3 linked regions of the Homo sapiens genome follow. The protein of the gene in region 3 purifies or fractionates together with the protein of the main gene of each other region. This does not show direct contact. Each region holds a gene or a part of one and is shown on either strand. Other genes may lie near its edges. The genes, in order: STK39, SNX18 and RELL1.

Region 1 (3,753 bases), on a different chromosome or scaffold from region 3:
ACATCAAAATATGGGCTTTATTTAATGCAAATATTCCCAAGGCAAACAAACAATTGAATGGGGGCCCCATGACCAAAAACACTAAATCCAAGTTTGCAAGAGCACTTTCAGTGTGAATTTAACGAGAAGGATTCTGGGTCAGGGACCAGAAGGCTGTTCATGGCCGTTCCATGGCTGGTTCCTTTTCTGGTTACAGTATTTCTCACAAAAATTCCTAAGAGCAACCCTCCAAAGAGGGTGCAAAAAGTCTGAACTGACAAAGAAAGGAGTATGAGGCCAGGAGAAAAGGCAGAAGTGAACTGCTGAGAGAAAAAAAACACACTCTTTGAGGACCTAAATCACAGGTGGGAGGGGGAAAGAAGTATGTTGTTTCTAGACCTCTGCTTATAACCGGAAGATTCCTTCCTGTGACACTACCTGATCTTTATTTTCTTTCCTTCTTTTTCTTTTTTTATTTGAGACAGAGTCTGCCTCTGTCATATAAGCTGGAGTGCAGTGGAGCAATCACAGCTCACTGCAGCCTCAACTTCCCAGGCTCAAGCGATCCTCCCACCTCAGCCTCCCAAGTAGCTGGGACTACAAGTACGTGCCACCACGCCTGGCTAATTTTTGTATTTTTTGTAGAGATGGGGTCTTACCACGTTGCCCATGCCGGTCTTGAACTTCTGGGCTTAAGTGATCTGCCCACCTTTGGCCTCCCAAAGTGCTGGGCTTATAGGCATAAGCCACTGAGCCTGGCTGATCTTTATTTCATTTACCTGATATATTTGAGGCACTAACACTTACAATAAACAAACAGATACCTAGTACTTTGTTACCATATACAGATTAGTATCCTTGGCACTGTGAATTCATGTTTCAACACATATTAATTAGTATTCCAAACCCCTGGGTCAGTTTAAAAGCCAAAATTACCTGGGGGTTTGACATTTCTGAAGAGTTAACAAACGGCTTACCTCAGGACCTGAATTTGGCTCTAGGCTCTTTATAATTAACTAAGAGGATTGAGCTTCCCCATCAGATACAGCTGCCTGCCCCTCATTAAGAGATTCAATGTAATGAAATAGAAGAAAACAAATGCATATTTTTCCCCAGAGGAAAAAAAAACCTCTGTTTATTTGTTGACTCTTAGATTTTTGTGTCATTTAAAAAATGATAATTCCAAAAACATTTTCTTTTTATTGTATAAGGATATACCATACCAGGCATGCATGCATTTCTGTCCTGCTAAAAGAAAAATGAACAAGAGTCCACGTCTGCCCACGTCCTTACCTGTGGAAACCTGTTTAAAATCTGTTCTTACCTAAAGCCCAGAGAGGCTAAATTGGACTCAAAAAGACAAAGAAATTTTCTGTCAGATCCTCCTCAGAAAACAGAAGATTCTCAGCTTCATAAAGCAAAAGGTAAAATCTTCAGCTTGAGCAGAGCATTTGGGACTATTCAGGGTCTCAAGTCATCAGAATTTCTCATTTCCTCAGAGTTGGTGGAACCCCACAAAAAGAGAATGCCTTAAGATCATCTTGTTGGCAAAGCGCAAGTTCCTCTGCTGAATAAAGGGGCAGTCCCAGCACTCAATACTGCAGTCCAGCTCTGGCAGGCTTCCTTTTTCTTTTCCTTTTTCTTTTTTTCTTTTTAATTAAAAACTGAAGTAGGCACTCAAGGAAACAATGACTAATAAGACTGAGGAAGACTGAAAACAGAACAGAACTAAGCTCCCCAGGGCTCCCCACCGAGACCTACACAAGCAGACCCAAGCCAATTACAATGCCTTCGTCATCTCATTTTTGGGCTTCTGCTTGATCCAAGAGAGTTTCCTTTTTAAAAAAGGAAAACATTAAAACACCTCCCTCGACATCTGCAGATTAAAATAGGCTCTATCATATAAATTCTGCTATGCTAGTTTTGGGTTGTCCAGGCACAGCAAAATGTTCTCCTCTGATCCTAAACCATACTTCATGTCTCAGAAAGATACCCAGAGAATCAAGCCCTCGAAAGAGAACACACCAGAGATGTGGGTATGCTGGGTGTTCCCAAGGAAATCACTTGGGCTTTCTAAGCTTCAGTGCCCATGTCTGCAAAACGAAGGTGTAAATACTTGCAGCACAGCATACAAATTTTTAAGTCAACAGATGTTAAAGTCACAAATTCCAGCACCAACATTTACTATGTGTGTGACCTTGGGCAAGTTGCTAAACTCCCTTGAAATTTGGTGTAATTTCTGAAAAACAGGGATGGTGACACAGGCCATTCAGGGACACTGTGAAGATTAAATGGGATAAGGTCAGTAAATTGCCTTGGACAGGATCTAGCCACAGAGTAAGTGTTCAAAAAAGGCAACGGTTATCATTATCATTCCCTCTCTGATAGTGATGTTAGAAGATTAAAAGAAATAAAATACAGGATGTGAAAGCACCTTGTAAATTAAATTGTCAATGGCTTGCATCACTGCAGGGATCTGAAGCTAGAGAGAGGAAGTGACTTTCCCTTCCCAAATGCAACAATAGGATGACAATAGTGCCATTTCTGATCAACACTGCAAGTGAATATGTAGCACACATTTCTCCCCATGTCAACTGAAACCACATTTAGTGAGCACCTACTGGGCGCCAAGTTCAATGAATTCAAAGTGCATTAGACAATCTTCACAAAGTCCACAACCTAAATATGCACTGTCCAATACTGGAGCCATACAAGGTGATTTAAATGTAAGTTAATTAAAATTGAATACTCAGTCCCTCAGTCACACTAGCCACATGTCAAGTGCTTAAGAGTCACATGGGATTAGTAAAAAGTAGATAGCAGCACCTCAGAACATTTCCATCATCACAGAACATTCTGATAAATGGCACTGAGATAATTCAGCAAACTGCAATGTGTTAAGGACCTGAACAATGTTAAAAAGAAAGGACTCAAGGAGAAAGGACTGGCTAACTTTTTTGAAGAGTAAGCGGTGACTGTGGAGAGGATGTGACCTTTTAGGCCTGAGCACATGGAAAACAAAGGAGAGATGCAAGGCTGAGAAAGAGGACAGGTCAGGGGCAAAGGCATGAGAGCACATAATACATTCCGGGGGCTGCCTCTCAGCCTAGAAGGTCGGGCATTTCATACCTGGAGAAGAGGACATACACATTCTCGGAAGTTAAGCAAAATTATGAAAAGCTTTGAAGGTCAATGTGAAGCAATCTGGACGTTATCCTCTAGGCAATGAGAAACCAAACAAACTTTCAAACACAGGAGAGAAAGGATTCAATCTAAAGTCTTCTCCAATATGCTGGTTCCAACAAAAGGAGAGAAAACAAGCAAATAAATAACAACAACAAAATCCACTTACCTCCACTTAGTAATTTCATGACCAGCCAAAGTTCATCTTTGACCACAAAAGAGGTGTAATAGGTCACTACGTTGGGATGGCTGCACTGACTCATGGCTTGAATTTCTTTCTATAAAAAGAGCAAAACATGACATAGTACCATGGGGTGAAAATTGGCAAGCAAAACACAAGTGAATCACAGTTGAGTACCTGGGTAACTTTCCTACTCGAAAGCCTACCTGAGGGGCTGCCTAAGCCATTACTTCAAAGAAGGTATATAAGGACCAATTCTCTCACCCACATTATCAACTCAGATTAGAAAGTTCTCTACAGGAGACCACAGAGCCCTGTGGACCAGCTACCAGACACAGGAACTTCAGATCACTGTTATCACCCAGATGACCCCCCAACTCTGCCAGCAGAGAGCCCTGCCACATAGGACT
Region 2 (3,753 bases), on a different chromosome or scaffold from region 3:
GGAGTGCAGGTCCTCTGCCTCCCTTCGGTCCCACTGTGGTCGGCATGACTCTGAAGGCTATGTGGCTCAAAAAAGAAGTCTGAGAAACCCCTGACGGTGTGGTATGAGCGGTGCCCACACCCAGTTTCGTGCCCAAGACTGTCCTTGGGCAGTCACATTTATATTTTAACCAAGGAACTGAGTCGTGTATTTCGAAAGCACCAACGGTCACCTTATTTTCACTAAGAAAACACAAACTGGGGCAAAGGGTAAGCCCCAGACCTGTTCTCTTTTTAGAGACATGAGGTCTTTTTAGAGAACAGCTGGGGGTAAATGCAGGGGAGAGGAGAAATGGGTTCAACTAAAGATGGAGTGAAAACAAAAAGAATGAACAGCCTCAATTTCTAGCCCAGAGGTTTCAAAAATAAGGATGAATTTGCAAACAGCCCCAACTTCTTAGAGCTTTTCTCTGTATTCCTGGCACCACCCTTTCAGGGCTATTTTTAGCTACAGGAGAATGGGGAGCAGACAGGGAAGGGTCTCCGTGTGGCCCAGCCTTACCTTGTGTGCCCTGCTGGGACTCCAGCTATCTTTAATTAATGTCTGAAGGACATCAGGCCAACTCTACTAGTGGTAAAAGGAAGCACAATGGTGAAATTCTACCCAGCAAGACTGACAGGCCCACTACTGGTATACCATTCCTGAGGTCCTGGGGCTTTTATTGAAAAAAGGCTCCATCTGGAACATTTAGAGAGCGATGAAGTAGAGTCTGTATATTTAAGAGTACAGAAAACAGGACTGCCTATTTACTTATCTAGTCCTGCCTCCCTGCTTCACACAGCCCAAATCGACAAATCAATTTAACACTATTTTACACCTTTTCTCTAGAAGAAAGACATTTCACTTAAAGGAACTCCCTCTAGCCATTTTTATTTAGTCCAAATTCCTAAACAAGGATGAAACCAGTATTTCTCATAATCTTTTACAGTCTTCCTTTTAGCAATAGTCGCAAGAGGTAAACCTAAATCTTTTAAACCTCAACTTGCTGCCACCTAGATTTAGCTTTATTAAATATTAGAGATTGATCATATCTTTGGAAACAAAACTGAATATGCCAAGAAACTAATAATAAAATATATTCCTCAGTACTACCCAAACTCCTCAACATCAACACTATAAAGGTATACTGCAGACAGGCATGATAAGGAGGGAGAAGATAAAATGCTATCACTTAAGAAAAAAAAAATCAAGACCACAGGGGTTACATGTCAGTGACAAACATCTGCACACTGCCTAGTCAGGGATTGATGAGCTACCTATGAACAAAGAACTTAAAGGACTCCTATTAGGTCAAAGCAAAACACAAATAAAATTCCAATAGATTCTGAATTCCCATCTAATGTACCGCAGACTACAGCAAACTACCGTCTTTCTTCGCTCAACTCCATTAACCTAAATAGTTAGACTCCATCCGTTGATGAAAAAAAATCAAAATTCCAGAATTCTCTTTTGGCTGAAGGAAGTATATCGCTTTCTTCACTTCTGCAGAAAGTATGTACACTAAAACCATTATTAGTTTAAAGAATGGGTTCAGTATTTAGTATAGTCAGGAAAATTTCAGCCCACCAACATTTAAGAGTATTTGAGTTTTCCACCCTCATTTTGCAGCTGGGTTCTCACCAGGATGGCCTCAGACATCCATCCCGTAACCAATGTGTTTTCTGAATGGGACATAAAGGCACACTGCAAGAGATGCTCACGCTACTGAAATGTCACTCAGGTTGAGTGCTTGGGAAATTCAGCAAAGAAGAATCTAGCAGGACTTGCTTCCCCCTTCCCAGTTTTTATTAATTAAGCCTATATGGGAAGGAGGAGGTGCAATGAGATGACCAAGTAAAAATAAAGCTATCAGGAAACTATATTAAAATATAATAATTTGCTGGAGAAACTTACGATGGGGTTGATAGTTAAACTGCAGCCAGCAGTTTAACACAGCACTGTCCAATAGAACTTTCAGCACTGATGGAAAAGTTCTATCATTTCTGTTGACCAATATTCAGTTCCTTAGTCACATTAGCCATATTTCAAGTGTGTAACAGTTGGGGTTGGGGAGGTGACGGAATTGAGATGCTCTTTACAACCACAAGTCCTGAATACGCTCAGAAAGCTTTTATCCTGGCTTATGATGTTTGTCTCATCTATACTCCTAAAAATGGCCTACACTAGCATCCTTGATAAACACTGGTTATAGGCAAATGCTTTTAGCCTTATGTATCGCACACTGTCACTTTAAATGGTAGTATTTTCTAAAGATGTGTCATCCAGGGACACAGGTTCACTGTACATTACACACCAAGGTTACAGCAGAAACAAACTATACTGAATATCAACTGCTGTTCTTTCCAAAGTTCCTAGAGATTATGTTTAGTGCTCTTGAATCTGTTAAGCCACATAAAATGATACTGGTTTTAATGAAGGAAGTTTTTCAAATCCCAAGTGACTAGAGACAAATCCAGTTCTATAATTTAAAAAAGATAAACTAGGCCGGGCATGGTGGTTCACGCTTGTAATCCCAGCACTTCGGGAGGCTGAGCTGGAAGGATTGCTTGAGCCCAAGAGTTAGAGACAAGCCTGGGCAACATAGCAAGACACCTGTCTCTACAAAATAAATAAAGAAGTAAATAAGCTATATATTTTTTGTTTTGGACACAGGGTCTTGCTCTGTCACCCAAGCTGGAGGGCAATGGTTCAATTATGCCTCACTGCAACCTCAAATTAACTCCTAGCCTCAAGCAATCCTCCAGCCTCAGCCTCCCTAGTAGCTAGGACTATAGGTATGAGCCACCATGCCACGCTAACTTCTTTATTTTTTGTAGACAAGGGAGTCTCCCTATGTTGCCCAGGCTGGTCTCGAACTCCTGGCCTTAAGGCAATCCTCCTGCCTCGACCTCCCAAAATGCTGGGATTACAGGCGTGACCCTGGCCATAACCAGATGGTTTAATAGACTAAGTAGACCATTGCTGTAAACTCAAAATAGATATTAGAACACACACCATACCTTTTCTAATATATAATTTCAAAAGCAGGCCATTTGACAAAGCCTGAGTGCATGGTGTGATTGACAGTGAATGAACTGATGCCAACCTAAAGTAGACAGACACCAGCGGCCCAGCACACATGTCCAAGTGTCTGTACTTGGTTCCATCCTTTCAACTGTTCACCAGTAATTTGCACAAACTCACAGAAATGTGTAAAAGGGCAGCCAGCATAGGTCCAGAATGATGTAACACAATGGAATTTAAATGCTAAATCCCTCCATTAAAGGCTCACAAAGGCAGTTCCACCAACACCAGTCAAAAAAGTCAAAGATTCATAACAATTTATGTTTTAAAAAAAGGCATAGGTAATGTAAATACAGGTTTAATACAGGCCAACAGCAATATGATTGCACAAAAAACGAATTCAATATTAGACTGCATTTACAAATCGCAAATTGCCAAGAAAGTTACTACTGTCTACTAAAATTAGTACTGATGTCCAGGGTACTCCCTTTCAGCGGCAGCAACAAGACTGAAAACGTTTGATCATTCTCCCAGCAAGCCCCTTCCCCCATAGGAGTCAGAAGACCAGTCACGCATTTGGAAGGGGAAGGAGAGAAGCAGAGAGGAAGGAAGCGAGACTGCTGTCTCCAAATGTCTGAAGGCGGTCCCAGGGAACAGAAAGACAATCAAGGGAGGCAAACTTCAGTTCAATACAAGAAAAGACATGCCAGA
Region 3 (3,753 bases):
CAGACCCAGCCACACAGGAGGAACTTCAAGTAGAACCATTCCCCCGAGCCCCACATTGCCTCTCTGCTGAAAGCCATTTTCATAGCTCAATAAAATTCTTCTCCGCCCTCCTCACCCTTCAGTGTGTCGTGTATCCTCATTCTTCTTGGGTGCGCTACAAGAGCTTGGGAACTGCTGAAAGTGGGTACAAGCTATACCACAGGGGAGCTGAAGCACGCCAGCGTGGCCAAGCAGGGCGTCGAGGCTGGGGCAGAGCGTCGCCAGCCAGGAGGTCCCCAGTTTACAAAGTGACCGAGAAGAAAACTCCTGCATCATAATGATTATAATGGGGACAATATGCCTGGTATGAAATGAGCACGGTTCATCACAGCAGCAAACAAACAATATCAAACAGAAGCTTTATTTGCAAACCAGAGGCCATAGAACAAAGACTACCTCTCTTTCGCATGGAAATATCCATTGTCTTTGAACATGAAAGGAAATAATTGGTTTCTTAGGTTTGTAAGAGGTTGCATTCATTACTTTATCAGACAACCTCCAGAATTTGAAATAGCCAGTGTTTTCTGATTTCTCCCTGAAGAATCAATATAATAAATACATCCCTAAATATATGCAATATACCGTCTAAGTTAGGGTTTAACCTCATGCCTTATTTTCAGGAAAAACCAGAAACATTTATTTAATCCCTTTTATGGTCCTAAAACAATGTTTTCTTTATTAATTCCTTTATATAACACATATTCCACGCAACAAGAATAGGTGAAGTAGGCAGCATGCTGAGATCAAGGAGCTTTACTCAGAATCACTGTCTGTTTCAATCTGGGGGTGAAAATAAATTCTTTTTTAGGGGGACAATGGGAAAGAGGGATGAAAGAGGGGCTCAGAATTGGAGTCAAACACCTCCCTCTGAATCAGGTGATTGAGAAGGTGTCTTCATCGTGAATTTGACATGTGGCAACCCCTAACAAACACTAAATATCTACAGAGCTCTGTGACTTACAAACATGTGTCATTCACTTAATTTCATAATTATCGTGCCATGAAAAAACTGAAGATATTAATCTACATTAGTGAAGCATATAAATTACAGGGAGAGGCAATATAGCACTCAGATTAAAAGCTCAGACCTGGCAGAAATAACAGACATGTTATTGGCCACATACTAGACATGTCACCTTAGGCGAGTAATTTTAACTGTTCTGTACTCTGTTTCCTCTCTGTTAAAAGGATCAAAATGAGTGTGACTAATCTGTGATAATTTTACAAGATGGCCCTGGGAAATAAAAATCTAATCTCAGACCCCAATTTACTATGCCAAAAGGAAAAAATTAAACTGAAAGCTGAGTCATTCAAGAAATTGCGTTTCCTTTTGTTCTTAGGCAGATAGCTACTGATAAAAGGTGAAGTATCTGCACAGGTAGCTACTCCATGCTCACCTTATCTTAGGTAAAGTGCTGACTGACTGACATAATTGACTATTACCCTGCCCGCTCCTTTTCCCTTGCAACAGGTAGATTCAGTAATGTGAACATCTGCTCCCTCTTTCCCCTTGTATTGAAACCTCAATACAAGTATTGAAACCTCAATACAAGTATTGAAACCTCAATATTCAATACAAGTATTGAAACCTCAATATTCAATACAAGTATTGAAACCTCAATATTCAATACAAGTATTGAATACTCAATACAAGTATTGAGTATTGAAACCCTCAAAATCTTCTTAGGAAAATGGCATGAACCACAGATTGTTCCTGTGGATTTGAGATCCTTTTCTCTGGACATGTCCTTAACCTTTGCAAAATAAACTTCTAAATTGACTGAGACCCGTCTCAGATACTTTTTGGTTTCCAGCTTCAAAATTATTTGATACTGCTTCTACTGAGAGGTGAGGTCTGTATCTCGTCCCCTTACATTTACACTCTACTCTCCCTGACCCACAGAATGTGTTGGGAATGATGCATTATCACTTTCCAGCCTCAGGCAATAAGAAACTGACAACTTCCACTTCCTGTTTCTTGGGGCACTTGCTCTTGGAACCCAGCCACCATGCTGTGAGGAAGCCTAAGCTTCCCTGTGGAGAGAAAATAGCAGGCATCAACTTATCAGCCAGTAATAGCCATAATAAAAGTAGATCCTATAGTCCCAACTGATGCTCCATGGGGCATCAGAGCTGTCTCTGATGAACCCTGCCCAAATTGTATAACAAATCCTTAAACAAAAGAAATGATTGTTGTTTTCACCCACTAAGCTTTGGGGTTATTTGTCATACAGCAATAGTAACTGGAAGCCTGCTGCATGGTGTCACTGTGAAGATTAAACAATATTAATATGTAAAGCATTCAGAAGAGTGTCTACAAAAAGGTGGGCACTGTATTTTAGTCATAATCATAAAAGACCTGCATTATTCAGTAAGATAGCCACTAGCCACATGTAGCTATTTAAATTCAAATTTAAGCCAAATGAATTTAAATAAAATTAAAAATTCAGTTCCTCAGTTGCATTAGCCACATCTCAAGTGCCCAGTGGCCATGTGTGGCTAACTGCTACCATACTGGACGGCCCAGATAATGAACATTTCCACCATCCCAGAAAGTTTTTTTGGACAGCCCTGTTGTGCATTATAAAGAATAGCTAACAAGAAAGATGCAGAGTGGAGAATATATTGTGATCTACCTTAACAATTCAATGAAAAATAGCTTTTAAATAACAAAGTAACTGTTCATACATAATGTCTAAAACATTTATAAACTTCAGTAGGTTTAGCTTTCCTTCAATTTACACTAATAATTTGCTGAGAAACACTGTATCCCTTCTTCTCCTTCACCCCTAGCTGAATCATGTCTGAATCACGAACAAGTTACTTAGTCCAAATAGCAAAGGTTGTTGCATTATTTATAAAAGTCAAAAAATAGCAACACCTGCATATTTGCAATGAGATAGTAAAAACATATCTAAATCATGGTTTCATTTGATGAAATAATATGCACTATTTAAAGATCTATGAAATTTTTTGTGAAGATACAGGAAAACACTATGATCCAATATTGAATTTCAAAAGCTGGATTCAAAACCTTACATGCAATATGATCCAACTAGTTTTTTTAAAAAATAAAAACGCATGAAGGTATAAAGCCAAAACCAAAATGCTAAGTGATTCTCGGTACTAAAATAATGAAATAAATTTAATTTTATCTTTATACTTTTCTATAACTTTCTAAAATTAGTATGTGGTACTTTTGTACCAAGATGGTAGACACTTTAAAAAGTATGTAGAGCAGAGGCTGTTAGTCATTTGAGAGTCACAAACCCCTTTGTGAGGTCTGATGGATGCTAGGATTCCTATTTCAAAATTTTGCCTCCCGGTTCTGTGACTTCTTGAACCCAAATTAATGTAAGGGCAAGTGATGTAATAAAAATGACGTCCAAGTTTCTGCTTGAGCAACATAGTGGACATTGGACCCATTCATTGTGATGGGAAATATATATATATATATATAAAAAGCAAGTTTGCTTGGTGTTATGGTTTGAATTTTGTCACCCCCTCCTAAATTTATATGTTGAGCTCCTAACCCCCAATACCTCAGAATGTATTTGGAGATAGGATCTTTACATAGGTCATCTAGTTAAAATGAAGTCATCAGGGTGGACCCCAGTCCCATATGATTGGTGTCCTTCTGAAAAGGGGAAATGTGAAGAAAAAGGCAGAGATCTGGATGATGCTTCTTCTACAAGCTAAGGGACACCAAAGATT

Evidence for each region.
Region 1: the proteins of RELL1 (region 3) and STK39 purify together in Homo sapiens (affinity purification with mass spectrometry; 2 studies listed by BioGRID and IntAct, with this or other methods). This does not show direct contact.
Region 2: the proteins of RELL1 (region 3) and SNX18 purify together in Homo sapiens (affinity purification with mass spectrometry; 2 studies listed by BioGRID and IntAct, with this or other methods). This does not show direct contact.

The regions. Positions count from the first base shown.
Region 1 is NC_000002.12:168,163,968-168,167,720, forward strand, and holds part of STK39 (STE20/SPS1-related proline-alanine-rich protein kinase), read right to left. Parts: intron 3,441-3,753; coding exon 3,332-3,440; intron 1-3,331. UniProt on the Homo sapiens protein: Effector serine/threonine-protein kinase component of the WNK-SPAK/OSR1 kinase cascade, which is involved in various processes, such as ion transport, response to hypertonic stress and blood pressure.
Region 2 is NC_000005.10:54,520,636-54,524,388, reverse strand, and holds part of SNX18 (sorting nexin-18), read right to left. Parts: exon of another isoform or gene 3,343-3,753; intron 1-3,342.
Region 3 is NC_000004.12:37,651,763-37,655,515, forward strand, and holds part of RELL1 (RELT-like protein 1 precursor), read right to left. Parts: intron 1-3,753. UniProt on the Homo sapiens protein: Induces activation of MAPK14/p38 cascade, when overexpressed. Induces apoptosis, when overexpressed.